Regions from separate parts of the Homo sapiens genome. Here regions 1, 2, 4 and 5 are each linked to region 3. The links come from fine-mapping of genetic effects on gene expression. A gene starts in region 3. Each other region holds a variant in brackets. All regions are shown on one strand. Distances are between the middles of the regions.

Region 1 (6,492 bases), 65 kb after region 3:
GTGGGGGTGGGGGGTGTGGTTGGGAGGGGGCAGGCAAATGATGACTCCTCAAGGGATTAAAACTCCATAGAATATAATGACAACGAACATTTCTTGAGCACTTCCTGCAGCATCCTCAGTGTGTTACAGGTATTTGCACATTGAATCCTCACAACACCACCAGGAACTATTATTATTCCCATGGTTGAGATTGAGGTTTGGAGAGAAGTGCCTTGCCCAGGCTCTTGCTGTGGAGGGAGTGCTCCTAGGCTCTGCTGCCTTTCACAGAATGTGAGCAACAACAGCCCCCAGGAGACTGAGCCCAGAGCTTCTCAACAGGTGTGGTGGGGTGGGCTGAGCGCTGGAGACCCTGCCCCGACACTGGGGCACATCTGACTCTCCTGCGGCAAGGAGGATTCAGCACATGGCGAAGCACATTCAATGTTAACAATGATTGGAAAGGAATCTTCCCTTTGGAAGACAAATAAACAAAAACCCTGTATGTTTTTCATAATACAGATCATAGAAGGGGTATGAGATTTGGATGTTGTCCCTGTGTATTGGTCAGGGTTCTCCAGAGGAGTACAGCCAATCAGATGTGCGTGTGTGTGTGTGTTTGTATACATTTATTATAAGGAATTGGCCTACACAATTATGGAGGCAAGTCCCATGATCTTCAGAGTGAATTTGAAAACTGAGGATCTGGGAGAGCCAAAAGGTGGAATTCTAGTACAAGTCTGAAGGTCTGAGAACCAGGAGAGCCAATGGTGTAGTTCCTGTCTAAAGACCTGCAGGCTTGAGACCCAGGAAGAGCCAATATTTCCCTGAATTCCGAAGGCAGAAAATAGCCCATGTCCCGATTCAAAGGCAGTCAGACAGGAGGGATTCTCTCTCCTTACTTCAGTGAGGGTCAGCCTTTCTGTTCAATTCAGGCCTTCAACAGATTGCATGAGGCCCACTCACACAGGGGAGGGCAGTCGCTTTACCCATTCCACTGGTTTAAATGTTAATCTCATCCAAAAATGCCCTCACAAAAGCACCCAGAATAACATTTGATCAAGTATATGGGGACCCTGTGGCTCAGTCAAGTTGACAGATAAAATTAACATCATACCCTGTTTAAGGGGCATAGATTAAAAAAAAATTAGTGAACACTGGTCCAATCTCTTCAATTTGCACATGCACATGAGAAAACTGAGATCTGAAGAGGTGCCCAAGGTCATGGGGTGGGATTGGGGAGAATCTGAGCTTGGGGGTCAGGGAGGCTAGAGGTCAACCTCATATCCTAGTAACTGCATGACTTTGATCCAGTCCCACATCCCCCCTCAGGTAAAATGGGGGGAAGACCACCTAAATCTTAGGGTGGTGCAAGGAGTGAGGTGTTCTAAATGATGAGATGGGCATAGCTTGCAAAGTGAGGCGGGCTCTGTTCTTTTTATTGTTAATTACAGGCAGAGCTAGGCTTGGAAGCTGGTTCAAGGACTCCTTATGGGTGCTCTGCCTGATGTTGGCAGACAGATGTGGCTGTTTCTGTTTTCTCTCTCCCACCCTTGCTTTAATTCCTCCCCACTGTAGCACCCCAGACCCTAGGCGAAGATGGGGTGAGTGCCCCCTCTTCTGCAGCGGTAGAGGGAAGAGGAGGGGAGGAGGAGTGCCATGCTCAGGAGGAGATGGTCGGTGAGGGGTGGGGAGCCTGCCTGGGAGCAGCTCAGGAGCTGCAGCTCCTGTTTGGAAATACAAATTGCAGCAAATTTGTCGTCTCTGGAGAGAAACTGCATTTGGCAATTTCAGTGTTTTTTGTGCTTTGATGCTCCTGTCTGTTTAAGGGGAGGGGGGAGAGAGTGGAGGGAATCAAACTGGGCTTCATTGAGTGGAAAGAGGGGCTGAAAGTGAGCGGGAAAAACAACTGAGGGGCTGAAAAAGGCTCCTCTCCCAGTCCTGGTGGGGAGGGTCTGACTTCTGAGATCTGTCCTTTGGGACTATCCTTCAGCCCTGGTCATGGCTGGGTGGTGGCCTGGGCATACGGCCGTGTTCACAGAAACATCACCAGACTCAGACCCAGAGCCTGTCACTGTCCCTTTCTGGGGGCCTTGCCCATGGGTGGGGACTTGGGCCAGAGGATGGAGTAAAATAATGTGTCAGGCTGGAAAGGCTCAAGCCCAGTGGTTGACCTTCTCCCAGTTGGTAGATAAGAGCAGGGAGTAGACACTTCGGTAATAGCTCTTACTCTGTACCCGGCACTACTTTAGGGCTTTAGATCTATCAACTCATTTGACCCTTACAACAACTCTGTGAGGAGGGTACTATTATTTCCCCTGTTTTGTGCATGGAAACTCTGAGGCACAGAGAGGTTAAGTGACTGGCCTGTGATCACACAGGAAATTGGTGCAGGAACTCAAGGCTCTTACCCAGGTTTGCTCCTAAGTCTAACCTGTGAGGTCAGTCCTGTCTGATCCTCCAAGACCAGGTGTAGGGGAAAGTGTGGAGGGAAAGTGACCAGGGGATTCTGAATCAAGGAGAATTGTTGGGGTCTGTGTGGTTAATCTTGGGGGCTTGCTGGAGCAATTAGAGCAATCTGAGAGGTCCCAGGTTGATGTTGGGGGCACCCCAGGCCTCTGATCCTGCATAGGCAAAGGCTGGGAAGCCGGACTGTGATGAGGGACTTTGGACATCTTAGCAATCTTGGAGACTTATTTGAGGAAGGAGAAGAGACATCAGTGGGCGGAACACTAGCACCTTGGTTCCTTC[A/C]TTCATTCATTCATCAATTTGCTATTTCGTAGCAGGTCCTGTGCTGGGTGCTAGGGATACAGAAATGAACAAACACAGTCCTGGCTCTGGAGTTGCTCACAGTCTTTGCAAGACACACTTGTAACAAGGTGTGATAAGGACTTTGATGTTTGGAGGTACTAGGGGCCCTGGGAGCCCAGAAGAAGGGCATATAGCTGAGGCTGGTTTTCTAAGTGATGAGATGATGGCTAGTGAAAGCTTCCTAGAAGAGGTGACCTCTGAGCTGAGGTATCATAAGAAGCAGCTCTTCCACCAGAGGTTCTCAAGTTTGTTTGGTAGAATCCACCTGGGGGCTTCCAAAAAACCTGATGCCTGGGGCCACCCAGACCTATCAAATTGGAATCTCTGCTGGTAATTCTGCTGTGCAGCCAGCACTGAGCGCTGCTGAATTAGAGGAAGAAAGGTGGAGCAGGCATTCCAGGTTGATGGGGAAGGGGATAAGAGCTAAGACAAGGGATGACATGAAGGTGGGAAAGAGGCAGGCATGTTTAGGGGGCTGCAAGCCAGACCACAGGGACTGTGAAGCAGTGGACAGATGAAGCAGGAAGAGCTATGAGGGCTGCAAATTGGGGGAGCTTGGGCAGACCCTGCAACCCAGGTCCCAGCTGTCTTGGGCAGGAAGCCTCCATGCTGGTAGGCCACCCCATGTCCTGCACCCATCCTGCTGTGCTAGCCACCTCGGTAAGGGGCAGGAATTTAAGGAATACTTCCGTTCCCATCGCTGCCTTTCTGTGGAGCTGTCAGCTGCGCTGCCAGCTGTGTGCAGAGCCCCACCACTTGGAAGAGCACTGGATCAGTCATAAAGAGCCCATGGCACTCAGAGGGAGCTCAGGGCTTCCAGAGCAGCATGGAGGCCTCATGGGGTAGACCGAGTGTGTCTCATGGCCTGTCAGAGACCCTGGGTCCTGGGGGCACCCTTGGAGGGGCCCAATGACTCACCAGGCAGCCCAGAGCCCAGGGCTACTGAGAAGCAGAGGCAAGATCCTGAAGTCTTGGGAGGAGGATGGAAAGGAGCTGAGCCGACTGCTGTGTGCGCTGGTCCATGAGGTGTTTTTCATGTGGCAATGGCCCTCTGGGTGCCAGGCTCTCTGCTAAGTCCTGTCTTTGAGCAGGCTCTGTCTTATGGACTTCTGGCACCAACCCTGAAATTACAGTGTGCTGGGGTCAGATCTGAAGTCCAATCCCAGGGCTGGCTGCTGCAATTTCTCTCTGACCATGGGCAAAGGACGTCTCTTCCATGGGTTTCAACTGCTGTGTTGGTAAAATGGGGCTCACAGTCCTGAAAACCTTACAGGGTTTTAAGATTGAAATGACATGTATGAAATGTTCAGCACACAGTTCAGGATCAGCCACTGATTCCTCTCCAATTCTTTTCTCTGCTTGACCCTGGCTTTCCCCAAGCCATTAGTCCCTGGGATTAAAGAACTCTGGGTTCTTACAGCTGTGCCTTCTGAAAAGTGATCTCAGACAACTCTGAACCCTGTCTGGATGGTTCAGAGTGGCCTTTATCCCTTTTTGCTTCTCAGGGCAGAGTTGTGGCCCCACTCCTTTGCCCTGGTCCTGCCCAGCCCAAGCCCGCTGGCCCTCCTCTCCACACAGAATGCCCAGTCATCTGAACACCTGAGTACCTTGTGATTGAGGCTCTCACCAGTGCTGTCCATGGTTCTGGCCCTGGGAGACGACCCCGGGGGATGTGTGAGGTGTGGATCTCTAGGCGAGAGCAGCTGGTACTCTTGGTGATTTATGAAGGATTCGGGAGAGATGCTTGTTGCTAGGTGACCAGCAGGGGCCAGTTGGAAGAGGTGAAGCAGGACTGCAGTGGGAAACCCAGTCCCTTTTCTTGTTCACTTCTGGGTGAATTCCTGTGCCCTTAAGGGTTCTGTTCTTCTTCTCTTCCCCCTTCCCTTCTCCCCTCATCCAGTGCCATAGAGACCAGAAGTATGCAGGGATGGAACAAAGTCCCAGATTGTTGTCTTGAGATTTTAATTTTCTTCCCTTTTAGTAATATTTTCAGTATGTGTTGTGTGTGTGAGTGGGTGTGTGTGTGCATGTGTGTGTGTTTGTGTGTGTGTGTGTGTGTGTATAAGAAGATAGCTCACAGAGGGGTGGCCATGATGACTGTTTCTCCATAGTGCATGCTTGTCACGTGCCGGGAACTTGCTACATCGTTTTACATAACTCATCTCCAATAGCTCTCTGAATCCTCCTAGCCACCCTGGGAGGTAAGCTATCATACCCTCTTTTACAGATAAAACAAACAGGCTCAGAGAATAAATCAGTTTGTCTGAGGCGCCTTAGCCTGGAAGTGGGAGATTGGGGATTTGAACTCAGGTCTACTTGTATGCTTCAGCACTAAGTACTGTTCTGTCAAGGGTTCCCTGGCTTGGTGAAACCATTCCTGGCCTCAGGACAAAGCTGCATGCAGGGACAGTACCCCAGCCTAGGACTCAGCAGGCTTGAAATCTGGTTTCAAGTTTGTCCCTAGTGACTCACTCTTTGACCCTAGCCAGCCCCTTGTCTTCTCTGTCCTAAATGTGAATGACCCTGTTGAACTGAGCCCCGTGGTTCTTCCTAAAAAGGAGTCCAGGCCCCCATGCATAGCCTGACTCCTGTAGATATGGGGGCTCCAAGTCAAGGGCAGGCCAACTCTTGGAGTCCCCCACAGAGCCAGGAAGAAGTCCATGCTTCCCGTCTGTTTAGTGGTTCCTGGACTCAAGCAGACAGATTTAGCGTGGTTGATGCAAGGGGTCCCAGAGCTGGAGTCTGCAGTGAGCCCAACACTCTGGTGAGGCGTCTGAGATGCAGAGAGCTGACTTGTTTACACTACACTGTGTGCACCAGTGACCCCCATCATCAATCTGTGGGGACATCTTCTCGCTGCTTCTTCTAATGAAGGATCAGGAGCTTTGACCTGGAATCCAGAGCTCTAAGTTATGAAGAGTTTGACTGTTGGATGGGGGAACCTGAATATTGGAGGGCCCAGCACGAAATCCCTCAGCTGGCTAACAATTCATTGGTGGTATCTGGTTACTGATCATTCTTACTCTGCACAGACCTACTGTGTGTCGGGAGCTTTATACACGATCCAAGAATCACTGCATGAGTTGGCTGAGATGAGTTTGGAACTCAGTCAAGTCCATCCCTAGAAGGACTTGCTTTTGAATATGTATGTACCTGGCTTTGTGTTAAAGCCTTCAGAAGTGATGTCCCCTTTCAATCTTTACAAACACCAAATGAGGCAAGAATTATTTCCCTTCCTTTATAGATGAGGAAACCCTGAGACCCTGAGATGGCTCAGGGAGGAAGTGGTAGAGCTGGGATTCAAACCCAGGGCAAAGCCGAGAAGAAACTGCCTCGCCAAGCCCCTGGGCTGGCTTGGCTTGCAAGGAGTGAGCGGACTCCAGTCCCCACTCAAACTAGCTTTTAAATGCTGGTTAGCAGTTTTCCTGGTTGGTGTGGGCACACACTCCTTGCTACAGACACTTTCTAATTAAGAAAAAGAGCAGTAGGCATAAGGTCTTTCTGGAAAAGGGGCTTTGGGCTGAAGGAAGCAGAGACATTTGTGTTAAGGAGATGCTCATGCTCTTCACGTTGCTGCCCTTGGCCTGAAGCTCCTCCCGCCCCACTGGCTCCTTTCCAGTTTCTCCCCTCCAGGCTGCCCTAAGGGCATGACACTGTGTCCACTCAGTCATATCCCTCTACTCTGGACTGACCAGGACTGGAGCA
Region 2 (6,492 bases), 91 kb after region 3:
CTATACAGAACTTTCCAGGGAAAGTTTCTTTGTTGTGCTTTGTGGCCCTTTCTGAGCGGTGGTTAAAGTACTGCCTCTGGGACAGGGTAGCACCATTTGATTGCTGTGGCCTGATGGGGGCCATTCCTGACCCCCATGCACACAGGCAGTGGTGGACATTTCCCCAGGGCTTGGGGCTCCTAGTAAGGAGAAGTTCAGTCGTGATCACAGGAAACACAGTCCTTGCTCATGGGGACTTCTCCATGCCCTCAAAGGAAGCTTTGGGGTCTGCAGACCTGGGTTTGAATCTTGGCTCTGTCCATTATTATTATATGTTCTCAGGCAAGTTGCTAAATTGCTCTGCCTCACTTTTTTCATATATAAAATGGGGTTATTACAAATAACAAAAGAAAAAATAGATACATTGGACTTCATCAAAATTAAAACTTTTGTGCTTCATAAGATACTAGCAAGGAAGTGAAAAAATAACCCACTGAATGGGAGAAAATATTTTAAATCATATATCTGATAAAGAACTTGTATTTAGAATATATAAAGAACTCTTGCAACTCAATAATAAAGGGACAAATAACTCAATTTAAAAATGGGCAAATGGCTGGGCATAGTGGCTGACACCTGTAATCCCAGCATTTTAGGAGGCCGAGGCAGGCAGATAACCTGAGGTCAGGAGTTCAAGACCAGCTTGGCCAACATGGTGAAACCCTGTCTCTACTAAAAATACAAAAATTAGCCAGGCACAGTGGCACGTGCCTGTAATCTCAGCCACTTGGCAGGCTGAGGCAGAAGAATCTCTTGAACCTGGTAGGTGGAGGTTGAAGTGAGCCGATATTGTGCTATTGCACTCCAGCCTGGGCAACAGAGTGAGACCTTGTCTCAAAAGAAGAAAGAAAAGAGCAGAGAATCTTAATAGACACTTCTTCAAATAAGGCACACAGATGGCCAATAAGCAAATGAAAAGATGCTTAATATCATTCCCCTTACGGAAATGCAAATCAAAACCACAATGAGATACCACTTTATCACTTTATATCTGGTGGGATGACTATATAAAAAAGATAGATAATAACAAGTGTTGAGGAGAATGTGGAGCAATTGGAACCCTCATGCACTATAGGAGAATATAAAGTGGTGAGCCATTTTGTCTGGAAGTTCCTCAAAAGTTAAACGCAGAGTTTCCATATGACCCAGCAATTCTGCTCCTACGAATATACCCACAAAATAATGAAAACATACATCTACACAAAAATGTGTACACAAACATTCACAGCAGCATTTATTCACAATAGTCAAAAGATAGAAACAACCCAAATGTCCATCAGCTATGAAATGGGTAAGCAAAATGTGGTATATCCATACAATGGAATATTATTTGGCCATAAAAAGCATGAAGTACTAATATATACTATAACATGGTTGAACCCTGAAAACTTAATGCTGAGTGAAAGAAGCCAGTTGCAAAAGACCACATATTGTATAATTCCACTTACGTGAAATGTGCAGAATAGGAAAATCTACTGAGATAGAAAGTAGATTTGTGGTTGTCTAGAGCTGGGTGGATGAGAGGATTGGGGTGAAATGATAACTAAAGGGGAGAGGAGTTTCTTTCTTGGCGTGATGTAAATGTTCTAAAATTGTGGCGATAAGTCACACAACTCTGTGAATAGAATAAAAACCATCAAATTGTGCACTTCACTGGGCGAATTCTGCAGTATGTGAATTGTATCTTCACAAAGCTGTTGCCAAGGAAAAGTGGGGGTTATTAATAGGTTCTACCTCTCAGTTTTGTTGTGAGGGACAATGAGATAAAGCACAGCCTCTAGTATATAATGAGCTCTCAGTAAGTGCTCACTATTTTATTATTACCATTATCACTGGGCCATTGGAGATTGTATGCAATAAGGAACAGAGTAGCTAGCATACTTCCTGACGTGTAACTGTTGATTCCAACGTTAGTGCCCACTCCTTTCTTTGGACGGGCAAATCTTGGAGGTGCAGGAAGACTCCCACTGAATCCAGGACTCTGGTCAAGCTTACCCTGTGGCAGGAATATTTACAGCTCCACTTGGGAGCCTTAAGCAGCCAGGGCAAAGTTTGGTTTTGGCCCCATAACAGGGTTTATTAAAACTACAGACCTCTAAGTTTCTCCAGAGAAACTCAAAGGGGCATTTGTGGTTCAAGTCCTGTCTGCCAACCTGTCCGTTTCACTGCTCCCTGTCCCTCCATCCCACTCAGGTAGGAGCTCGGCAATTTCTCCTCTTTGTTCTGGGTTTGCTCAGTAAGGAGCTGAATTATTGTCTTTATTATTGGGCCCCCCTGAGCATTTTCAATTTGAATCCTTCCCTGTAGCCTAAGTCTTTCCCCTCAACTTCTCTTTGTAGTGCAGATTAGCTACTTGGAAGGATATTTTACATTATTTTGCTCCCAGGAGGCATTGAGAAGACACAGGGCTGAGCTGGGGGTTGAGGTGGGAGGCTTTGGTGCAAAGATGCTAGTTTTATTGGTTTTAACTCTATCCCACAATTCTGGTCCAGGACACAGCTCTTGGGCCTGTCCTTCTTATCATTCACCTTCCCTCTCCCCCAGCCATTTTCCCCCCATCTCATTTATCAGCTACAGTGGTAAGTGTGGGTATGGCAGGAGGGAGTCATGGATATGAGGGAATAACACTGCACCAATTCCTTTATTTCCCCATAGTAGTATCTAGTACAGAGAGGGAGTTTCAGGGTCCTGTTTTCACACAGGGCATATGTGTGTGTGTGTGTGTGTGTGTG[TGG/G]AGAGGGTAGAGAGAAAGAGACAGAGAGAATATGTGTGTGTGTGTGTATGTGTGTGTGTGTTGAAAAGAGACCCAGAGGAATATTCCAAGAATTCTAACATCAGAATAATAGGAACTCCAAAACAGAGAAAACAAAGGGGTAAAGATTATTAAAAAACAATACAAATAATTGCCTACGTGGAATAACCTGAATCTACACACTGAAAGGGTCTGTCAAGACTGGGCCAATTGGAGATCCATGTGAAAAAGAAATGAATCTTAGTTCTGATATCATACTATACACAAAAATTAATTCAGGATGGATCATAGACATAAATGCAAAAAGTAAAGCAATAAAGTTTCCAAAGGAAACCTGCCCCACCCCCCAGAAGAATTGCTTCATGTCTTTGAGATGGGCAAAGGCTTCTTAAACAGAATTAGAAAACCCATTAATTATAAAAGAAAATATCATTAAATAAGACCCTATTAATTTTTGTTTTGTTTTGTTTTGTTTTGAGACAGAGTTGCCCTGTCACCCAGGCTGGAGTGCAGTGGCATGATCTTGGCTCACTGCAACCTCTGCCTCCCAGGTTCAAGCGATTCTTTTGCCTCCTGAGTAGCTGAGATTACAGACGTGTGCCACTATGCCCTGCTAATTTGTGTATTTTTAGTAAGGACAGGGTTTCACCATGTTGGCCAGGCTGGTCTTGAACTCCTGATCTCAAGTGATCCACCCGCCTCAGCCTCCCAAAGTGCTGGGATTATAGGCATGAGCCACCGCACCCGGCCAACCCTGTTAAAATCAAGAACTCCTCTTCAGTAAGAGACCATATTAAGATAGTGAAAAGGCAAGCCAAAAATGGAAAAATATTTGATTTTATATACATATATATATATGAGGTAATTTCCCAAGTGGCTACTTTTTTAAAGTTATCAACTGGGAGGAGATATGAAGGGACTCACTGGGGTCCTGGAAATGCTTATATCTTGATATGTATTATGAATTTGATATATATAGGATATATATCAAATTCCTTTTTTAGGTATATGTGTATACACACACACACACACACACACACACACACACACACATATTATTCACATATATCCAAAAAAGGAATTGTATCTACAGTCTATAAGGAAACCACATAAATTCATTCATAAAGGAAGAAATTTTTACTTTTAAGATAAACAAAGGATTTGAATAGGCACTTTACAACGAAAGTCAATAAAAGAAATACAGAGTGGTCAATAAACATATTAAAAAGTGCTCAATATTATTAGTCATCATGGAAATGCTAATTAAAACCACAATTAAATACCATTACATCCCTACTAGAATTGCAAAAATAAAGGTCTGAAAATACTGGCAAGAATGTGGAGCAACTGAAACTCTCAAACATTGTTGGTGGTAGTTTAGGTTTGTACAATCACTTTGAAAAGCTGTTTGGCAGGATCTACAAAAGCTAAATATATGCTTACCCTGTGATCCAACCATTCTATCTATAGATATACACTCAAGTGAAATGAATACTTATTTCCACCAAAAGACATGTACAAGAATGTTGTAGAAGCACTGTTTATAATAGCTCAAAACTGGGGACAATTTCACTAAGTGAAATAATTCAGAAACAGAAAGTCAAATACTGCATGCTCTCACTTACAAGGGGGAACTAAACAATGGGTACACGTGGACATACAGGGTGGCATAACAGACATTGGATAAAATATAGAAGGTGAAAGGATGGGAGGGAGATGAGGGTTGAAAAATTACATATTGGGTACAATGTTCACTATTTGGGTGATGGGTACACAAAAAGCTCAAACTTCACCACAACATAACATATGTATGCAAGAGGCCTGCAATTTTACCCCCTAAACATAGTTTTTAAAAAACTTGGGACAATTCCAAATGTCCATCAACTTTGTTTAAAGAAATTGTACACACAACAAAATATTATGCAGTAATGAAAAAGAACTAAAAACCTCTACATGGAACAATATGGGTGAATGTCAGAGAAATGTTAGGCAAAAGAAGTCAAACAAAAAAAGAATACATACTGTAAAAGTCCATTTAGATGAAACTCAAAAAAGGAAAAACTAATCTATGGTCATAGAGGTCAGAACAATGGCTACTCTTGGAAAGTTATCAACTAGGAGGAGACATAAAGGGACTCATTGGGGTCCTGGAAATGTTTATATCTTGATATGTATTTGTGTAGTTTATAATATGTTACAAAATTTGTTACAATAGCTACAAAACTACCTGTAAGTTCCAGCTTAAAATAAGAAATAAAGGGCCCCTTAAGCATCCAACACAATAAATGAAAAGAGCCCACACCAATTCACACATCATTGTGAGTCAAAAGAGCCACAGGAGAAGAGAATATTCTAAAGATTTCCAAGAAGGAAGCCAGGTCACTTTCAGAGGAACAAGAATCAGACCTGCACCAGACTGTCATCAACAACATCAGACACTTTCACATTCTGAAAGAAATGATTTTCAACCTAAGCTTTCTACATCCCACCAACCCATTATTCAAATTGCAAGAACCCATAGACTGTCTCCCATAAATCCTTTTTAAGGAAGCAACTTGAGGATGTCTTTTAATAAGTAAGGGAGTAAACAAAATAGGGGAAGACTGGGAATGCAAAAAGCTATACATAGAAATCAGAAGAGCTGTGCACAAGCATAAAGAACAACCAGTCCAGATTGAAGCAAGAGAACTGAGTGCTCCAGCAGGCAGGGGTGGTGGTGGTCCCTAAATAAAAGGGGAACTCGGTAGAATGGGCTTTATAAAGACTTTTAAAAAATTGGAAATGTGACAAAGACAATTAGGACTAAAGAATAAAGAAAGACAACTCAAAACGTATAAACACACACATACACATTTGTATCTGAAATGAAACTGTGATTATAGTACACTACTTGGCTCTGTAGTGAACAGTCTTTACCTAGGCACAATAATAGAAATACTTTTCAGTGATTTTCAACTCTTGGAATCAATCTGAAAGAACTATTGTGGTTACAGAGTAGATGTAGATATTATCAGTTTTTACAGTGTAAAAGTAGAAGTGTAGATGACAGACAGCATTAGGAGGTAGAAGTGGGAGAGGTGAGGTGAAGGGAAGGATGGGGGTAGAAATATTCTTTTTGTACAATGTACAAATTCTCTTTAAAAAGTGCATCTGTAGAGGATGGAAGATCACAAAAGTAACCAATAGAAGAACTAAAAATAGAGATATGGCAGGAGGGATGGAGGTGGTGTGAGTGAGATAAATCCTTGTCTATTCTAGCAGTAAGTCAATAGATTGTGTCTAAAATTGATGAATCAAGAAATATCAGTAGAAGCATATTATTTAGAAAAATGGAGGTAAATATAAGAAAAGACATTTAAAAAAGTTAGATGTGGCTGTCTAGGGGGGACAGAACAGGGAGTAAGAAGTATTTTAACAGGAAACTGTTTTTAACCTTGTGCATATATGACTTTGAATAAAAACAGACTTTGTTTTTTTTTAAAGAAAAAGGGATGCAGGCCAGATCTAGGAGGAGATTATAAAACCATCATCTTTTCCTAAGGACAATCAAGGCATCAAAGAGCCCCTAGTCAGCCCCCCACCTGGAACAGGACTTCCAGTAATGCTTTGAAATCTGGTGGCTGTGAACTCATTCAGTCTTTACAGGAGCAGAGATTTGGATACTTTGAAATGTCACTAATTTTCTTGCCAAGGCTTCTTTG
Region 3 (6,492 bases):
GTGGACAGTACTCCACTAGATTGTTGGCCAAGGCAGTACTGGGCCCACCATTCAAACCCATATTTGTACTTTCTTGCTAGAGTAATAGTGATGAATGAAGGGAAAATTCTGAGTAACACTGGGTTCACACATTTGAGGCAAGCAAGCCGTGTCTCATCAAATAGAAGCTGCTATCACTGATCAGCTAGCAGCTCAAGGAGGAAGACTGCCAAAGGCAGCAGGACAATTATTAATAATAATTTGTGGTACACAGCAACTGTTCAGTAAGTGTTAGATAACTCCTTTTAGGCAGTGACACTAAATACAAACAAAATCTTGAATCCCATACTTATCCCTCCTGTTTTTCTTCTTCCACTTCTAGTCACTAAAATTTAGCTATTCTGGCCGGGCGTGGTGGCTCACGCCTGTAATCCCAGCACTTTGGGAGGCCGAGGTGGGCAGATCACGAGGTCGGGAGATTGAGACCATCCTGGCTAACACGGTGAAACCCCGTCTCTACTAAAAAATACAAAAAATTAGCTTGGCGTGGTGGCGGGTGCCTGTAGTCCCGGCTACTCGCGAGGCTGAAGCAGGAGAACGGCGTGAACCTGGGAGGTGGAGCTTGCAGTGAGCCGAGTTTCCGCCACTGCACTCCAGACTGGGCGACAGACCGAGACTCCGTCTCAAAACAAACAAACAAAAAAAACAAACAACAAAAGAATTTAGCTATTCCTATGACATGCTTTCACTTCTATTCCTTTTCTCCCAATCCTCAGCTAATCAGTCTTGTCACCTTGCTTTTGAAAATATAGTTTTCAAATAGCTCCTAGCTTCCTTCTACCCTCCGTGTTCATTCCATTCTATATACTGTTAATAATGTCCCATGATACTTCTTTGCAGATGTAATTCTTTGCTCAAAACCTCCATTTTCATATGAACTTCATCAAAAATTTTCACTTAGCATTCAAGGCTTTTCAAACCTTGTCTCTTGGTACTCCTCTCCATAAAAAAAGACTTTAGGGAAACTAGATTGAGTTAATATATGTAAAGCACTTAGAACCATGCCTGGCCCATACTAAGAAATATATAGGTCTTAGCTATTATTATTATTGCTCACTTTTATTTGAATATGCTGTATGCATTTCAACTCCAGAACACTGCTAATTCCCTTTTCCTATTTGAGTACCTCAATCTCTAAAGGAAGGAGTGATTTAAACTATCAATGACCAGCAAGAGCCAATTGTTACTGCTGGAAAGACAACTTAAATATTCTTTCTACAATAGATAGGACCTGCAAACAAGGAACCCTAATTTACCACCAAATAACAAAATTTAAGGCTGGATGAAATAAATAAAAGATAATATTTTTTCCTTCATTCAAGAAACAGCAAATTTATGGAATGTGTTATTTAAAGAAAAAGAAAAAACCTGAAAAACATAAATGGGTTCTGGATTTAGGGCAGTTACTCTCTAACCCTGGCATATATTAGAATAACCTGGGTGCTTAAAAAACACAGTTGCCTGGGCCCAATCCCAGATTTATTGAAGGGGAAGGCCTCAGACACTTTAATTATTTTAATGCTTCATAGGTGACTCTCATGTGCAACCACATCTGACCATCATTGGTTTGGTCATGTTTGGCATATAGTTTTCTTATGTTTTTAAAATAAAGCACACTAAGAGAACTGATTAACCTACAATGACTTATGTGTTTATGAAGTGTTCTAAAAAACCATACAAAAACCAAAGAAACAAGAAAACAAACCTTTTCAACTTGATGTAGGGTTCAGAAGATACATACATTCCAAATACCACAGTAAGCATTCATCTGAAAGTTTGCCGGTTGGTCTTTCTATTAATTAAAAAAATTCAAAACAGAATACAGATTTAACTATGTACAATATTTACAACTTACAGATTTTACAACGAAATTATACAGTTAAGTCTGTCGTGGAAATGTTGGCATTTTGGTATATAACACTTCAGAAATTTCAAAAACAACTTTACCTCAAAAACATGTTACACAAATTTTCCAAAGTGCTGTAGCTCACTGGCTCATTTTATCTCAACAATCCAGTTTAGCAATCCAGGTACCCAAATCTTGAGGCATGAAGTAACCGCTATACTACTGAGAGACAGCACTTTTTATACAACAGCAGAGGCTGTTAGAAACCTTGGGTCTTTAAAACCCTATAACAATGCCCCTTTCACCCTCCAATCCTGAGACAACAAATCCTGTAGTTCCCCCTCATCATCGCTGTCAGCATTCTCTTCTTCCTTTTTCTGCAGTTCTTTTATGGTCAGGATTTCTTTAAGTTTATTTTTTATTTCATCCTGGCGATTCCGTAGCTTTTCCACCCGTCGGTAACACTCTATCTGCTCATCGATCTCCCCAATCTGGCGGTCCAACCGTCCCTCCTCATCCTCTTCGGCAACTATGGCTTCGGAAATAGTGTTGACCTGCCTCATGGCTTTTTGGAATTCGTCCCACTCTTTGTCCATCTGATCTTTTGGAGCATCAACCTTTCGTACTCTTGCATCTACCTCAGGGTCGTCAAAAAAACCTTCCGGTAACGCTTCCGCGGTGTTTTCTCTCCTTTCCACCACTTTTTCATGTATTTCTGCTTTCTCAATTGACCCTGAATGAGGAATTATGGGGGCCTTGGGAGGATTAGTACTAAAGAAATCGTTTGGCAGCACACTACTTGTTACCTCCCGTGAAGAGGAAACTGAGTGCTCCTTGCCCTGTGCGTCGGAGAGCGGCTTGCTGGCGTCCCCCCTTTTTCTTTCTCCATCTCCTTCCTCCTCCTCTTCCTCCTCCTCCTCATCTTCATAATCGGGGAGTAAACTGAGTCCTGAAGGCTTACTGGGAGTCGCTCTAATGAACTCCTTTCCTATTTTGTCAAAGTTGGTGGTCCACGCAGATGTGGAGGGCTGTACCTGAGGCACCAAGGTGGCCTTCGCTCTCTTGACATCTTGGTCGTCTGCGTCCGGCGCTTTCCTCTTGACGGAATGAGGCGCTGAACTGGCGGACGAACCCTGGCTGGCTTCCTTCGCGCCTTTCAGCTCGGCCACTTTCTCTCGGTGCTGCTTTCCCAGGACGTGAGTCTGCCACAGGAGCTCGCTCTTAACCGGAGTGTTACACAGGGCACAACTCAGCTGCCCCAAACGGTTGTACTTCGCGAATGGAGATTCTATCCGTTTCCGACTGGTGCTCAGACGCTGCTTCTCCTTCATTAACCGCCGCAATTCTTCCTGATTTATCACTCGCTTCCCTGCCGGAGTCCGGGCGGAGGCGGAGGACGCCATCTTGGCGACCAGACCCAAAACGATTCTGGTTTCCGTCGGGCGAGGCATGATAACGTCACTTCCTGTAAGGGCGATGATTGGCCGAGGCTCAAGAGAGCGTGGCGTCGCATTGCCGTTTTTGCTCAGAATCGCGACTAAGGCTTTTTTTTTTTCTCCCTCTGAACGGTTAGGCTATGGCTGCGATAAAGGCCGTCAACTCCAAGGCTGAGGTGGCGCGGGCCCGGGCAGCTTTGGCTGTCAATATATGCGCCGCCCGAGGGCTGCAGGATGTGCTGCGGACCAACTTGGGTCCTAAAGGCACCATGAAAATGTGAGACAGCGGTTGGAGCGGCCATTACGCGGCTAGGGGCCCGTTGGTGTCCTGTCGCCCTCTGAGGCAGGCGTCCGCGTAGCGCTGTGGATGTTCTTGCGAGCTTGATTTCCCTCATTCTCATCCCTGCTCTGGGGGTATTTCTCGCCTGGTGCAGGTGGAGGAGAAAAGCCTCCCCTAGTAGAGGGCCCCGGGAGTGAAGCTGTGGCGCTTCCCCGACCCCCGACTTGTCGTCAAGGTTCATATGCAGTTAGAAAGTCAGTTAATTTAGTGTCTCATTGGAAACAAAGCATTTAACTCCTCTGCTCCTTAAGACTGTATACCCTTGGTCCATAAATTCAACAAGTAGTTTTGTTTTTTGTATGGCAATGTATTGTAGTGGAGAGGACACAGGCTTTGGAGCCAGGAAGGCATGGGGTCAAATCCAAGTTCTACTTGAATACCCCGTGTCTATGGTTGTTCAGATCTATTCATCTTTTCAGTATATATTAAGCACCCTTTTCTATAGACAAGAGTGAGGAAAAGAGACCAGTGAGGGCAAAAGGGTATAAGAGGAGAGACACATCCTCATAGTAATGAACAAAATAATATTAATGGTAAAATAAGTCACTTAGGTACCAGTTGTTGGGACACAGAAATGATCAAGATAACGGTTTCTGTTCTTAAGGAGATGTGGTAGAGACGGATGTGGTAGAGTAGGATGTGCTAATTATATATAGATGCATATAATTATGCTGAAGAAAGGGACTGATGGCAGAAGGAAAAGCATCTTAAGTAACATGTTTGATCAGTCTTGAAAGAAGAATAAGACTTCACTAGTTGGAAGAGGGAGTAAAGGCCTGGGCAAAGTAATTTCAGGAATAAGAAAGACCAATGGTGCAAATCCAACAGAAACGAAACAAAACATGGTATATTAAGGGAACCAGAAGATTTGCTTGTGGAAAAGTAGATGAGGCAGGGAAGATATTGGGAAAGGTCAAGTATGTCATTGCTGTGTTTGGATTTTAACTTGAAAATGATGGAAAACATAAAAATCATTGGAGGACTTTTGATCAGGGAACTGACTGAATCACGTTGCCTTTTAGAAAGAAAAATGTGTGGAGGGTATATTTAAGTTTGGAGATATCCGGATGCCATCCAAAGTAGAGATGATAACAGTGGAGATGGAGAGAAGGTGGCAGATTCAAGAGATATTTAGGTAGTAGAATTGATAGAACTTGGTGATCTAATAAATGCAGGGATGAGGGAAACTAAGTTGAGTGACTGAATGAATGAAAACATTCACCAAAATTAAAACCTGCAGGAAATTTGCGAATTTGTGCTTTGTAGACTTCCAAGTATTCTTTGACCAAACCACAGTTCGTAACTCATCAAGTGCTTTTATCTTTAAACCTGTAAATAGTCCATTTGGAATGAAATCTCCATAATCTGTCCATCTGGGGAGAAATGATTCTGTGAGCTGCAAATGGTGGTAATTACCATGGCATATTCCCATGGTACAGTGGAAGTTTTCCGAGCCCAGTTCCCTCTATTAAGGATAATGGAGTGGCAAGCACTGGGAATGTCTTCCTACCACATGAAGTTAATATCATTCTTCTCTGAACAGGCTTGTTTCTGGTGCAGGTGACATCAAACTCACCAAAGATGGCAATGTGCTGCTCGATGAGATGGTGAGCTGATGCTGCTGACTTTAATAAACCTTAATAAGCCTTAATTAGAAGCATAGTAGAACTTGTGTATCTTTAAGCCAAGGCTGTGAGCTAAATACTGCAGTCTTGAGATATGCTGAAGACTGTTGAATTAGACCTCAATAAAAAAATTTTTTTGGCCGGGTGTGGTAGCTCACTCCTGTAATCCCAACACTTTGGGAGGCTGAGGTGGCCAAATTGCTTGAGCCCAGGAGTTCAAGACCAGGCTGGGCAACATGGTGAAAACCGTCTCTACAAAAAAAAAAAAAAAAAAAAATTTTGCTCAGTGTGGTGACATACGCCTATAGTCCCAGCTACTCTGGAGGCTGAGGTGAGAGGATCACTTGAGCCCAGGAGGCCAAGGCTGCAGTGAATGAGATTGTGCCATTGCACTCCAGCCTGAGTGGCAGAGTGAAACCCTGTCTCAAAAAAAAAAAAAAAAAAAGTTTTTTTTTTTGGCTGTTTCCAAGTCTTTGTATACTTATACATACTTTGTATACTTAGGCATACTTATAAATCAATAATATCTTTTAAGGGCACTGCCTTATGTTCTTTGTAATTATGGAAAAATAAAAATATCCTTTGCAAGTTTAATACATGTATTCATTTTGAGATTGAATGATTTAATCTTATTTTAGAAATGTCATTGCATTCTGAAGCAAAGACTTTTATGAAATGTTCAGGCCTCATTACCTGTCACTTTTAAAATTTTGGACTTGACATTTAGGTATTGATAATACAAAACTTGTAAACTTGTAGAATGAAGCTTATTTCATTTTTTAATTTTGCTACTGACCCCTAGGTTATCTTGCTTTTGGTGACCTACTTCCTTATCTCATCCTGTCTTTTTAAATCTGTTGCTTGCTTTTTCCAGCAAATTCAACATCCAACAGCTTCCTTGATAGCAAAAGTAGCAACAGCTCAGGATGACGTCACAGGAGATGGTACTACTTCAAATGTTCTAATTATTGGAGAGTTATTAAAACAAGCTGACCTGTACATTTCTGAGGTATTAGAATTTCACAGTTTATATGTTATTTTGAATGGCAAATTATTTTTTTAACTAGTAAAATGGTTGAGTTTTAGACAGTTAATTTTGTTTTAATTAATTAATTAATTAATTTTGAGATGGAGTCTCACTGTGTCGCCCAGGCTGGAGTGCAGTGGCAGAATCTTGGCTCACTGCAACCTCCGCCTCCCAGGTTC
Region 4 (6,492 bases), 49 kb before region 3:
AGACCCACCTCCACCCTCCAACCCCCCAGCATCACCGGTACCAAGATCAGGCTGATCTACTTGGTGCTTCCTTTCTTTTTCTGATTCCCTGGGAGAATGCTGACAACTGAGTTAATGTGTTTGTTGTTACTTCTGAGAGAATGAGTAACTGAAAATTATAAATTATTCCCATTCATCTTAGGTATTTGTATAGTCTCCAAACCTCTGTTAGGACCAACAGCACCTCAAAAGAGGCAAATGGGTTTCACTCCCTTTCACACCCAGCCTACCTCCTAGGGGGAAGTATTTCTTGACTTTTTAATAGTCCAGAAAAGAGAAAGTATAGATGCAATAAGGGAGAATTCCTCTATGGGTTGGCCAACCCCCAGATGGTAGAGGTGACTTCTGTGAGATCAGTTCCTTTTTATGGGTACCTACTTCAGGCTACAATTTAAGACATATTGGAGATGGCTGGGCTTTTGAACATTATTTTTTCTGTTTGGGTCAGCTCTACTAGGATACTGGTCATGCCCACTATATTCTGCTAGTGACACAAGCCAGTTAGCATTTATTGAGAACCCTGTGCACTCAGCAGTTGATACTGTCTGGATAGTTTCTACTCTTAGGGCAGTTAGGCAGAAGGCCATTCTAGAGCAGGAGCTGTGGGGCCAGCCTGCCTGGGTTTGAATCCTGGCTCCTCGACTTAGCAGCTTTGTGCCCTTGGGCAAGCCACTTAACTTTTTTGCCCCAGTTGGCCTCATCTATAAAATGAAAATAACAAGAGGTCCTACTTTATAGTTTTTGTGAGGCTTCAGTGAGTTAACACATGCAAAGCTTTCAGGACCCTGCCTGGCACACGGTAAGCATTCAGTAAATGTGGGATGTTGTCATTCCCTTGGGAAGATGTTCATTCATCAGACATTTAGAGTACCTACCATATAACTGGCATTGGGGGCTTCAAAGATGAATATCTAACCTTGGAGCATGGAATAAATGCTAAGCATATAATTGTAAAAATTGATTGAATATGTTGAATTAAAGAGCTCATAGTCTACTCTGGGAGTAAGTAGGCAAACTCAAAATTTTAATCCAATGTGATAAGCAGTCATGGGGGTATAAAAAAGTTTTGTGGGGGTAGAAAGAGGGAGCAGTAATCTCTGCCAAGTTTCTCCACCAGGAAGTTTCCTCAGGAAACCTGGGAGTAGTTTGTGAGATAGCAGAGGGGTCCCCCATGATCCCTGACTTTATTAAATGGAGGATATGTTTATAGATAAAGCCTTGTGATCCTTAATGAACCATTCATCACAGTTCCATTTCTATCTAAACTTTTCTGAACCAGTTTTATCTTTTTAGCCTGTTCTGCCTCAGGGGATAATGAGTCCCTACGTGCCACTCACACACTCACTATATTACAGCCCCAACAGTCTGAAAATTATTTCTTTTAAGCTTTGAGAACTTTGCCTTAGTTCTCATGTTCTGGGATGTGTCTGATCCACAAGTGCTGTGTACTTTTCAAATCTTTACCTGTTGGAGGGGATGAAGTGTGGATTAAACAAGTAACCAGAGTTGGTTATTGAGGAAATGTTTCCTCGGAGGAGCTCTATTTGAGGGAAGCATGTGCACTGAGACTTTGTTTACAATGTACCTGTTATCTCCCACCTCCCTCCCCCAGTCACCCCTATACACTTAAGACATTCTCCTCACTCCTCTGCCCCTTTTTTTCTGCCCTGTGTGTTTGTACAGGGGGAGCAGTACCATCAGGCTTGGAGGAGAACCTGTGTAAGATCTGCATGGACTCACCCATTGACTGTGTTCTTCTGGAGTGTGGCCACATGGTAACCTGTACCAAGTGTGGCAAGCGCATGAATGAATGTCCCATCTGCCGGCAGTATGTAATCCGAGCTGTGCATGTCTTCCGGTCCTGAGAGCTTGCATCGGTTTCTTCAGTGCCTTACAGGGAAATAGCCTGGGGTGTCTGGGCTCAGGGTTGGCCAGCTTGCAGAGGAGCAAGCTAGTAGAAATATTGCAGGGTTCCCAAAACCAGGTCAAGCAAGATGCCATGTCACCCCTGAGCATGCCTGTCTTCCCAGGGGTGTACCTCTTGGCTGGCAAAGCCCAAGGCCAGTGGGAACTTGTATAAATCACATGGGTATGTTCTTGGTTCAGTGATCTTGGAGTGATGATGGTAACTGATGAACAGAGAACTTTCCAGAACTTGGGTCCTGTCTTCCTCCCTGAACCTAGACAGTTTCACCCCTCCTCCTGTACCCAACCCATCCCCACCCCATATGGGAGATGCTTGCCCATGTGTTTCATCAATCAGAAGTCCTCCTCCCCAGCACATTCGGATTTAAATTTCTGGTCTCTCCGGCTTTCTGTGCTTTAACTATCTTTGCTAAAGTCTCTTGCTACATTGCCTAAATCCATTTGTTTCTTTGGACCAAAAATGTTAGTTTACCAGACC[G/A]ATAGTGGTCCTTAGGACAGATTTTAGACCAGTAAACTTATCTTTGGTGAGAAATGAAATACAAATGCTATAGAAAAATTTCAAAGTTGTTAAAAGCCACTTCATTAAATGCTGGGATTGGAAGCTGTTGGTCTCCTGACCTGACTCTGGGAGCCAACAAAACATCAGGCTCCCAAACTGCTGGGAAATTTGTTTCTGTCTGCAAGGGATAGTGCGTGCATAATCCCTGCTGCTGCTTCTCTTGGGACCTGATTTGCACCATCCTTAGTTTATGCGGAAAGGGGAAGCAATGGGTGGAGGCAGTGGCCTTCTCCTTAATTTTGGCTTGGCTTCTGATCCTTTTCCCAACTAGAAGTCTTAAGCCACTTTTCGCTGAAAATGAAATCCCTCCCTTATCCATGGTAGTTTTAAATTTGGTTTCATTGAAGAAATAGATTTAGGCAAAGAGCCTGTGCTCTTCTCTGGCCAGACTGCTGTTGAAGTTCCTGGAGAGCAAATGTTAAGACAGAGCACTTAAGAGCTTTCAGGAGGTACTGAATGAGACTGGATTCTGTTGTAAGCCGACAGTTCAAGTCTTTATTTCCCAGGTTGGTGGGGAGTGAGGAGACCCTACTTTCATTCCCTTTCCTAGCCCACTGATTTTTGGGGGCAGGTCAGGGAGAAAGCATTTTTTTTTTTTTTTTGAGTCTCACTCTGTTGCCCAGGCTGGAGTGCAGTGGTACAGTCTTGGCTTACTGCAACCTCCACCTCCCAGGTTCAAGCTATTCTCCTGCCTTAGCCTCCAGAGTAGCTGGGATTATAGGCGCCCACCACCACACCAGGCTAATTTTTGTATTTTTAGTAGAGACGGGGTTTTACCATGTTCACCAGGCTGGTCTTGAACTCTTGACCTTATGATCCGCCCGCCTCAGCTTCCCAAAGTGCTGGGATTACAGGCGTGAGCCACCACACCCAGCAGGAGAAACCATTTTCTAGGCTCTTTAGGAAGGACCATGCAATGAGTAGGTGATGTATTTGAGCCCTCACAGTCTTTACACCCCTAGAGGAGCTGGAGGACTTAAGAGTTTGCTGCAGAAGCGTGGCCAAGCACAAAACACATGATCAGGAAAGCAGAGTGTTTTCCCATTACCAATGGATGAACTATGCAAACCCTAAACGCCTTGGCAGACACCTCCCACCCCTTACCCCTCCCATGCAGCTGAAAAATCTGAGACTAGAACCAATCATGACTCTGGATGGCAGAGGGAAACCTCTAAAGGGACTTATTACATTGGTACAGACATATTTATGCTTTCTTCCATCACCAACCACTAAACCCCTTTGGAGGAATGAAATAACTGCATAAACTAGTCAACTGAACACTGGGCCACTTACCTCAATGTTATACAAAGTCCTGGATGATTTGATTCTGAACCACAGCCTTTGCAGGAGTTGGGGGAATCAGATTTGCTCATGAAGACATCCCTTTCCACTTTTGTCATGGGCAGTAAATACTATAGTTTACAATGCCTACCAATTAGCAAAGGATCATTCATTCAGCTACTCAGTTCCTCTGTAAAACAGGTCTATGTATGTGCAATTCAGCTAAGATCTAGCAGTAACTTAAGGGCAGAAGCTGGCTCTCTACTTACAACCTGCTTTCTCTGCTGAAGCCTTACCTCCTCTTCAGTTTCCCTCCTAGACACAAATCGAAAATAATATACTGATAGCTGGTTAGTAACCTCAGTAAGAATTAAAACTGAGGTTGTTTACTCATTTTGCCTTTAAATCTTTTATCCCCTTTTGGTGAAGGTTTCCCTTTAGGAAAAAAGGTGTCAAACAACCCTGATTTTTTTTTTTTTTGCATCATTTTTATTACACCAAATTAAAGTTGGGAGTTCCAAGATCCCATTCCAGTTAATATTTAACCAAGGTCTAAAATTTGATTTTTTTTAAATCTTTGAATCCTCCCTTCTGCCCCTCATGGATCCTTGGTTTTAATGATATGGAAACATCTAATTCTTAGAATTATTCCGTAGCTTTTGCTGATTACTCTGAGATTTCAGTTAAGACTTGTTTCAAAAGACAGATAGCTGACTGGTTCATAATACATTGGAATAGTTGGATCCAAACTAATAAGAATAAGCTGTACAGGAACTAGTGCTCAATATACATTGTATAAATTTGTGGAAATCTCTTGGATGTGAATTGTTACTTCAAGTGGCTTTTATTAAGATTTTCTCAGACTTACTTGGAGGTTAAAGCAAACCCAAATGTGTATTATTTTGTTACAGAGCTCTGCTTTATAATTTTGTAATAAAGTTTCAATACAGACACCTGTCCTGTCTGGTGCGAGGATGTTAGAGGTTGATAGGACTGACAAAAGAGCCTGACAGTGGTTCATGCTATAATTTCCACACTTTAGGAGGCCAAGGTGGGAAGACTGCTTGAGCTCAGGAGTTTGAGACCAACCTGGGCAATGTAGTGAGACCTTGTCTCTACTTAAAAAAACAAACAAGGGCCGGGTGCGGTGGCTCACGCCTGTAATCCCAGCACTTTGGGAGGCTGAGGCGGGCAGATCACGAGGTCAGGAGATCGAGACCACCCTGGCTAACACGGTGAAACCCCGTCTCTACTAAAAATACAAAAAATTAGCCAGGCGTGGTGGCGGGTGCCTGTAGTCCCAGCTACTCGGGAGGCTGAGGCAGGAGAATGGTGTGAACCCGGGAGGCGGAGCTTGCAGTGAGCCAAGATTGCGCCACTGCAGTCCGGCCTGGGCGAAAGAGCGAGACTCTGTCTCAAAAAACAAAACAAAAAAAAACACAAACAAAAAACCCAAAAAAACCAAAAAATTAGCCGTGCATGGTGGTGCATGTGGGTAGTCCCAACTACTTGGAAGGCTGAGGTGGGAGGATCACTTGAGCCAGGAGATTGAAGCTGCAGTGAGCTCTGATCGCCACCGCACTCCAGCCAGGGTGACAGAGTGAGACCCTGTATTAAAAAAAAAAAAAAATTGACAACTGATAAACCACAAGCTAATCCTGGGATGTGCACATGGCCTGGGATTAGCCTGTGGTTGGGCCAAGTGACCTTGGTCAAGATGCTCAGTGTTGTTGTAACTAACTAACTTGCTCAAGACCACAAATGTAATATATGGAAGAGGCCATGGAACAACCTAGAAGAGAATGAGAGCTGGGTAGGTAAAGGATGAATCCCAAGACCAATTGGGTTGAAGCACCAAGTGAGTTCAGATATTTACACTGATCTAGAAGAGATGGGCCTTAAAGAACTGAAATCTGAGGACAGTTAGTATGCCCAGTTAGGTCTTCAGGTTACCCTGGGAGATACATGGTACCTTTTGGATACAGCTGTAGTACAGCTGGACTATGGCTCAGAAAAGGTTGGCCCAGGCTGGGCGCCATGGCTCACGCCTGTAATCCCAGCACTTTGGGAGGCTGAGGTGCGTGGATGACTCGAGGCCAGGAGTTTGAGACCAGTCTGGACAACATGGCGAAACGTGGTCTCTACTAAAAATACAAAAACTTAGCTGCGAGTGATGGTGTGTGCCTGTTTGTTAAGTCTTAGCCACTTGGGAGGCTGAGGCATGAGAATTGCTTGTGAACCCGGGAAGCAGAGGTTGCAGTGAGCTGAGATTGCACCACTGCACTCCAGCCTGAATGACAGAGCAAGAGTCTGTTTAAAAAAAAAAAAAAGGTTGGCCCAGCCTCGTGACAGACTGCTGTGTGTGCGCAGGCTTGTACAAACCTCCCTGACCAGGCGCCCAAGGAGCAGGGAAAAGACTACTGAGAATGCAGCCCCTGGGAGAACAAGATTATGTGTCCATCTGCTGTGACTGAGAAGAGAAAGGAATCTTGCCAAAAGGGCATAAAGGATCGAGGATGAGCCACAACACTTTGCTCACATTGCCCTAGGGAGCTGACCTGTTCAGCACCCAGTGATGACCTCTGCTTGATGCCAGCCAGCAGCATGTAGAGGTTCAGAAGAGGGAGGCCTCCAGCATTCTGCTGGAGAGATTTATGATGATGATGTTGAGGGCTGCATTGAAATAC
Region 5 (6,492 bases), 830 kb after region 3:
CCCCAGGAATGGTTGCGTGCCCAGGCAGGGGTAAGTCAGGGCTGGCTTTGCTCAGGTCCTGGAGGGTGACAGCTCAGCCCTGGAGCCTCTGTGGCTGAGCTGGGGGCAGAAACCTTTATGTGGCTATTTATAGGTCCTGATGGCCAAAGGAAGGGAGCTATCCTGATGCCAAAATGACTCTTCTGGGGCCTAGGCAGTGGAGCTTGGGGGGCTGGCAGTTTATTTAGGGAATACAATGGCCTACTCAGAATGGTTATTTCTAATTGATTCCTCCCCAGCTCCTCTCTCTCTTCCATCCCCATTATTCCCATGACCAAATGGCCCTGTCTGAAACACAGCTCTCAATATGTCACTACTTTGTCCCAGTCCATCAATGGCTCTCTATTGTCTTGCCAATCTGCATTTCGAGGCTCAGTTTCCAATTCTTCATGGTGCAAAGCCTAACTCTGCCGTAATATACAATTCACTCTTTCCCGAAGGCTTTCTTTCCCCACTGGCCCCTCAGCTTTGTTCCTACTATTCATTCTCAGAATTCCTCCTTTTTCTCTCCCTTAGCATTGGTTTGTTGAAAGTCTGCTCATCTGCTAATGTCCATCTCCAATGCAGCTTTTTCCGCGAAGGCTTTCTCGATCTCTCCCTACTCGCTGTACTCATTCCTTAAATACTTGTTCTCTGTCCATTGAATAAATGCCTTGGTGCTTTTTACCTAAGGGCAGGCATCAGAGTGGCCGTATAATAATTTCATGTATAAGCTTCCCTTCCCCTGAAACCCATCTTTTCATTTCAAAAAGCATTTGTTGAGCATCTGCTCTCTTCTAGGCAGTTGCTAAGGGATGCACTAGTTATGCAAACATGGGTAATGCAGGGCCCAGCCCTTGGGGAGCTTGCTGCCCAGATGGGAAAACGCATCCTAACAGATTCATTATGGTGTGAGAAGCATCATGGAAGGGAATTCCAGAGTTTGGAAGAGGAAATGCTTTACTCTGTTTGAGGAAAGGTGTGGGCATTGAAGCTTATAAGACCAAAGACACCTTTGTCTTTCAACAGGGACTATATCTTTCTTGTCTCTTTCCCTGTGTGTCCAGACAACACCTGGGACATAGATGATGTCCAGTAAATGTGTGTTGCACTGGGACTAGTTAGATATAGGTTCTGTGTTCTCCAGGCTCCTTTGAGCCCTTGCCCATATCCCCATTTATACGGATTCAAAATCATAACTGTTGCATCTCCTCGTAAGCCATGAGGAGGAAAGCAGTAGTTGAATCTGATTTCAGCACCTGGAAAGCAGTGGTTGAATCTGATTCACTGCATTATCTTTGGAGCCTGCACAGGGTAAGGGTTTAAGGAGCTTTGCTGGGTGAAGTCATGGGTGGCAGTGACTGCCTCTAATGATCTCGCCTTGAAAAGTGTGTGACAGGCTCAGTCAGAGCATTCTGTCTTTCTTCATGTCTCTAATTTAGTCCTTTCATGATGTGCAAATGAATATTAACTCCTAAACCCCACAGATAGCCTGAAGAGTGCAGAGCAATAGCCTTAAAGTAAATGGCAAGGTGCAAGTTTCCATGGTGGCTTTATCGTTCTCTAATTGGACTCACCTGGCTGTTGGATGACAGTACTTCCTGCTCCACTGGGCCAGCTCCTTGCTGGTTCAGGTGCATCCCTCCCAGCTCAGTGGACCCCCTTGAGAGGCAGGACATGGTATGTCTGGAGGGTGACAATAGCTTTAGCCTTTGTTCTGTACTTGGTTCATTGATAATAGGATGCCCCGTCTTCTAGATTTTAAGGAAGCTTTGATCTGGGGATCCAAGAAGATTGGAAGCAGCTACTAGTATGCCCTGTTTTAGGTATTCCATTATAAAAGGCTTCTGTAGACAAAGAAGCTTGAGAAAGATCTTGGTGAAATAGAACTACTTAGATTTCCTCAGGGCAGGACTTCTCATCCATCACCTTTGCTGTGGTTGACAGGTACTGTGAGTCTCCATGAGGGGGTACTATAGGCAGTGATGTTTATTCTTAGCCAAGAACCTTTTAACACTCTAGAGAATAATTTTGGGAATTATTAGTTCCAGGTATAACATGGGACATGGCCCTTTAAGAGTGTGGAAGAGGTTCCTACCCTGTGGTATGTGTGTGTATATCAAATGCGGTCATGTCCTACCAGGATTCCCAAAGTTGATTCTGACAGACAATAATTCCCCAGAATTCTTACATTTTACAGGAAAAGAAATTGTATTCCAAGGCTTGTTATGCTGTACAAGTGGAGAGTTTGGCCTCAGAGTGAGGCAGAGTGGGGCTTGGATGCTGGTTCCACCATATAAAGTCATCTCTGCCAGTTTCCACACCTGTACGTGGGGTGATCCTAGTCCCCACCTCATTAGGCTGTTGTGAGGATTAAATGGGATAAAGGACATCACATGCTAAGCATAGTGCTTGACGTGTAATAGGTATTTAGTAGATGTAAGCTATTAAAAACTAGATTCATACGCTTTTTATTCTCATAGTTCATGAGCCCGTGCTCTCGAGGGTAGGGGGTCAGGCATCACTCTGCACACTGATCTTTAGAGTGTTCTCTTCCTTCGGTGTATTCATGTTCACTCCCTCTGCTGTGGAGCCCAGGAGTTCTCAATATAAGAAACCACTTGTTGATATGAAAAATAACTAGCCGAAACCCCAACCACAGGTGGATTAAATCAGAATTTCTGATGGTGGCGCTGGGGCATCTGGCAACTTTTAAAGCTCCCCAGGAGGCTCTGATGTGCAGCTGGAGCTGAGCTAGACCGAGACTACCCCCTCTGCTGACACAACCTCATTCTTCCTCCAGCCCCAAACTTTCTGTAGAAAAGGGGAAAAAAGCCAATGCTGACTTTTTTGCATGTAGTAACACGGCATCAAGAAATGCTTCATTTAAAGAGAGTGCTGGAGGCAGTAACAATAATAACTTGCTTATCTAGCGCACAGTTCTAGTGCTAGAACTACTCCCATAAATGTGGGGTAGGCAGAGCAGGGACTTTTTCCCTTCTCCACTGAAAGGATGAGGAAACTGAGGCTCTTGGAAGTTAAGTGACATCCCTCAGGTCATGCAGTGACATAAACAGGCCCCTCCTCCTCTACTATCACATTGAATAAGTGTGGTTTGCAGGGGAAAGTGAACCACACTGCAGCGGGTGGCCCAAGGCAGGCACAGTGGGACCAGGGAGGTTCATGGTTCCCTTGATGCATTACAAGAACAGCTTCACCTGCTTTGCCAGGTCCTATGAGGCTCCCTGCACCTGGGGTCCCTGGGAATTCAGTGAGCTGAACTTCTCAATAGGGACAAGGTGTGGCAGAGTGGAATCCCACGGGCCACTTTGATAAGACTACTTTGCCTCCCTTTACCCAATAAACCCTCACAGCTTCTGATGTGTTAGTTATTCACACCCATGACCTGGGCCTTTTACTCCCCATTTGATTCCCTTTTTCTCATCCTCTACCTCCTTCTTTTCTTCATTCTCCTTTTCTCAAACATTTATTAAGATTGTACAAGGTGTTAGGCACCCGTGGGATGTGGTATCATCATCATTATATATTTGTGGCTGTCAGTGTGCTCTCCTTGCCTCTCTGAGATTCAGGGAGGTTGAGTAACTTCCCCACAGTCACACAGCTAGAATAAGGTAGAGCTCACACATGGATCTAGCAGGCCCAGTCTCCTTTGCCCAAGGCCCGGG[A/T]TGCTCAGCATAGAGAAAGCCAGGTTGGCTCTGAGCCAGTGCCAGTCCAGGGATCCCTGAATTTGCTCTTTGTACAGCCTCCTCTTTTATCATATTCTTTTCCTTGCATGGGACAGTTTCTTGTATTCTTGAGTTCAGCCCTCCCTTCTTGTGGAGGGCTCAGGTGGCATCGGACTCCTCCCTGGAGCTGTTGCATCCGTCCTGCAGCAGGAAGAGCAGGGGAGCTGAAGCCCCCAGCTGCCCCACTGAGGGAGAGAGTGTGTGTCCAGGCTGAGAAGAGGGGTCCCTGCACTCCATGCCTTCCCTCTCGATTCTGCTACCTATACGTAGAGAAAAATTGATTGCTGCATGACTGGTTTGGAAATGGGAAGAGGCTGATGGTCTGGGAAGAGAAAGGGGATGCATCCACAACTAAATTGAAACTCTGGCTGTGGGGGCCACATTGTCTGGAGCCTGGTGTTTTACGGACTCAGAACAAATTCTAGAATGTCATAGATGGAGGGTAAACCCAAGACCATCTTGTTTTTTGCTTTATAGAGTTCAGAATGAAGCTAAGGAGAGATCAGCAATCATGAGAGTTAGAGACAGACTGGGCAAGGCAGGGAGGCAGGGAGATGCAGAGGCAGACCCAGATCTTGTGATAGGAAGTCCTCATTTCTAGTTTGAAAAGCCCCGATGCTCATACTGCCTCCTTTGACCCCCTGGCCTTTCACATAGAAAACTTACTCATAACGAAAAACAAACCCCCTCTTACTGAAGCTGATTTGAGTTGTGTGACTGTTACCTGCAGCTGTGGATTCTGCCAAATGCAAACGCTTACTGGGAGCCTACAGGCAGACTGCTTCATTGCTTATCCATGGGCCCTCCCACCTTAATTTCTTAGACACTCTTCAAGGGCACCCCTCTGTCCTGAGTTGGAGGGTGGAATAATCTGGGAAGAGGCTTGTGCTCCCTGTCAGGGATGTGTATTTTCCAGGGACGTGCCCGGGCTACTCAGCACATGGTTCACGCACTAGCAGCATCAGCATCACCTGGAAGCTGGGTAGAAATGCAGCGCCTCAGGCCCCGCTCAGCTCTGCAGAAACGGAATCTGCAGCTTAACAAGGTCCCCAGGTGACTCATGTGCCCACTAAATTGTGAGAAGACTGTGTGGTCCCATCCACCTCCATCCCCTGCCTGTGCCTGCCTTGCCTCTTCGTTCAGAGTCAGAGAACCTCATCTGTGCTCTAAGCAGCAGGCCGGTGGTACTGCTGACCAAGAGTTGGTAGCTCTGTCCTGACAGTGGATGAGAGGTAATGGATCAGCCAACTCCCTAGGGAGGCTGAGAGAGAAGTGGAGAAGAGGGAACATCTCTCAGTGTTCTCCCTGATGTTGCCGTACAGGACTGAGGTCCTTGGCATGTTCAGAAGGCTGAGGCTAAACAGCCCCATGCAGGAAAGGCAGGCTGGTGGAGTCTGGGAAAAGCAGGCATAGATCTCACCTCTGGGGTGCTTTATTTATTCCGTACTTTCCTCCACCACCCCAGGCTGTGGGATAATGAGGCTTGGCTGCTTGGTTTTGAGTATGAGGCAGTGGAGTGGGCTAATAACTGTCACAGATGATGCCTAAGTCTCACTGGTGTAGCCTTTAGTCACAATAAACTTCCTTTCTGCTTACATCACAATCCAATCAAGGCTTTGATAGGCAGTCCTCCTCATGACAGCTCAGGGCCAAGCCTCTTCCTGTATAATGGCTCTGTCTTCCCCTGGAGCCTTCAGTCCTCCACTGGGTCCTCTATGTCTTGCCATGAGATGAGGGGAGGAGACACACCAGCTCTTGAATGTGCCTACCCAAGGTAACCCACTTTACTTGCATTCACACTTCATTGAGCAGAAAGCTTAGTCCACAGTCCCACTCCGCTCCAGTGGAGGCTGTGACATGTGGGATAGCCGTGTGACCAAGGGGAGTGACGTGGATGGGGGGCATGGCCTCCTGTGTTCCACAGTTACCTCCCTGCCCTCTGGCTGCTCTCTGGAGCTCAGGATTTGGTATCTGAGCTCGTACCTGGATCCTCAGTTTCAGAAGCTCCAGCTCACCCGCAAACCATGTCTTAGCGGCTGTGGTATTGTGGAGACATCTAGGCATGAGAACACAATCCCACAACCTACTACTTGTGGGGCTGTGGGCAATTCATATAATCATGTTACACCTCAACTTCCTCCTTTATAAGATAGGAATCATTCCTACAGATCGTCTTACTCATTTATTAAAATACACTGAGAGGATCTGAAGTGCTCCAGCCCAGAGATGGTAGCCACAGAGATCCCATGGGACAGTCTGGCACTGTCATTTGGGTATCGTTTCAGTCTATTCCCTTCTGAGACTGGTTCTCTGGTCTCCTGGAGATTCCATGAGCTACCTAACATCCTCTAACAAATTACTTTTCTGATTACACTGGCTAGAGTGGGTTCTGTGGAATTGGTGCTGTCCCCAAGACTGCATTAAGACCTTCAGTTGTCTTCTGATCAAGATTATGATGTTTCATCATCTGCACCCAAGTTAATTAGAAATAAAAACAATATAAACCACACACACATGCGCACACGTATACACATTGTGTGCCAGGACCTGTGCTGGGTGCCTGGGATAAACTAATGACAAGGCCTGGCCATTTCAGCGGATGCTGGCCTGTGAAGCGGGGGGCAGACACTGGGCATACAGTGCTGTTGTGTGTCAGTAGCACTGTGGTGAGGGCATGCAAGTCTCAATGGGGACACGGAGGAAGAAGGACATGAGTCTGTCCTGGGGT

Which allele goes with the higher level. Alleles are on the strand shown, and positions count from the first base shown. SD is a standard deviation of normalised expression in the study named. Not every link is listed here.
As copies of TGG replace G in region 2, the expression in monocytes after Pam3CSK4 of the gene that starts at base 3,395 in region 3 goes up (large effect, 0.95 SD a copy in Quach 2016).

What was found. PIP is the estimated chance that this variant, and not a neighbour inherited with it, causes the effect.
Region 1: its variant is fine-mapped to the expression of CCT6B in whole blood (TOPMed, PIP above 0.99).
Region 2: its variant is fine-mapped to the expression of CCT6B in monocytes after Pam3CSK4 (Quach 2016, PIP 0.95).
Region 4: its variant is fine-mapped to the expression of CCT6B in whole blood (TOPMed, PIP 0.96).
Region 5: its variant is fine-mapped to the expression of CCT6B in cerebellar hemisphere (GTEx, PIP 0.96).

Annotation. Positions count from the first base shown.
Region 1 is chr17:34,893,548-34,900,039 of GRCh38, reverse strand. All of the region lies in intron 2 of LOC105371742 (a long non-coding RNA gene), which reads left to right. Among named protein-coding and RNA genes, the nearest start is that of CCT6B, 65 kb to the left of the region's middle. The variant A/C (reference allele first, on the strand shown) is at 2,728.
Region 2 is chr17:34,867,557-34,874,048 of GRCh38, reverse strand. The region is part of intron 2 of LOC105371742 (a long non-coding RNA gene); the gene reads left to right. Among named protein-coding and RNA genes, the nearest start is that of CCT6B, 91 kb to the left of the region's middle. The variant TGG/G (reference allele first, on the strand shown) is at 2,772.
Region 3 is chr17:34,958,363-34,964,854 of GRCh38, reverse strand. It overlaps CCT6B (chaperonin containing TCP1 subunit 6B), which reads left to right and starts at 3,395. Exons shown (of 14, transcript NM_006584.4): 1 at 3,395-3,598; 2 at 5,205-5,268; 3 at 6,161-6,295. The coding sequence starts at 3,462. It overlaps ZNF830 (zinc finger protein 830), which reads right to left and starts at 3,315. Exons shown (of 1, transcript NM_052857.4): 1 at 1,078-3,315. The coding sequence starts at 3,288. The coding sequence ends at 2,170. RefSeq lists enhancers at 3,022-3,271, 3,352-3,431, 3,482-3,701, 3,802-3,851 and a silencer at 3,571-3,865.
Region 4 is chr17:35,007,380-35,013,871 of GRCh38, reverse strand. LIG3 (DNA ligase 3) reads right to left here. Exons shown (of 20, transcript NM_013975.4): 20 at 4,129-6,492. It overlaps RFFL (ring finger and FYVE like domain containing E3 ubiquitin protein ligase), which reads left to right. Exons shown (of 7, transcript NM_001017368.2): 7 at 1,723-6,492. The coding sequence ends at 1,904. RAD51L3-RFFL (RAD51L3-RFFL readthrough) reads left to right here. Exons shown (of 7, transcript NR_037714.1): 7 at 1,723-4,760. Among named protein-coding and RNA genes, the nearest start is that of LIG3, 30 kb to the right of the region's middle. The variant G/A (reference allele first, on the strand shown) is at 2,444.
Region 5 is chr17:34,125,103-34,131,594 of GRCh38, reverse strand. It overlaps a transcript of ASIC2 not described here. Among named protein-coding and RNA genes, the nearest start is that of LINC01989, 55 kb to the left of the region's middle. RefSeq lists a silencer at 3,062-3,181. The variant A/T (reference allele first, on the strand shown) is at 3,705.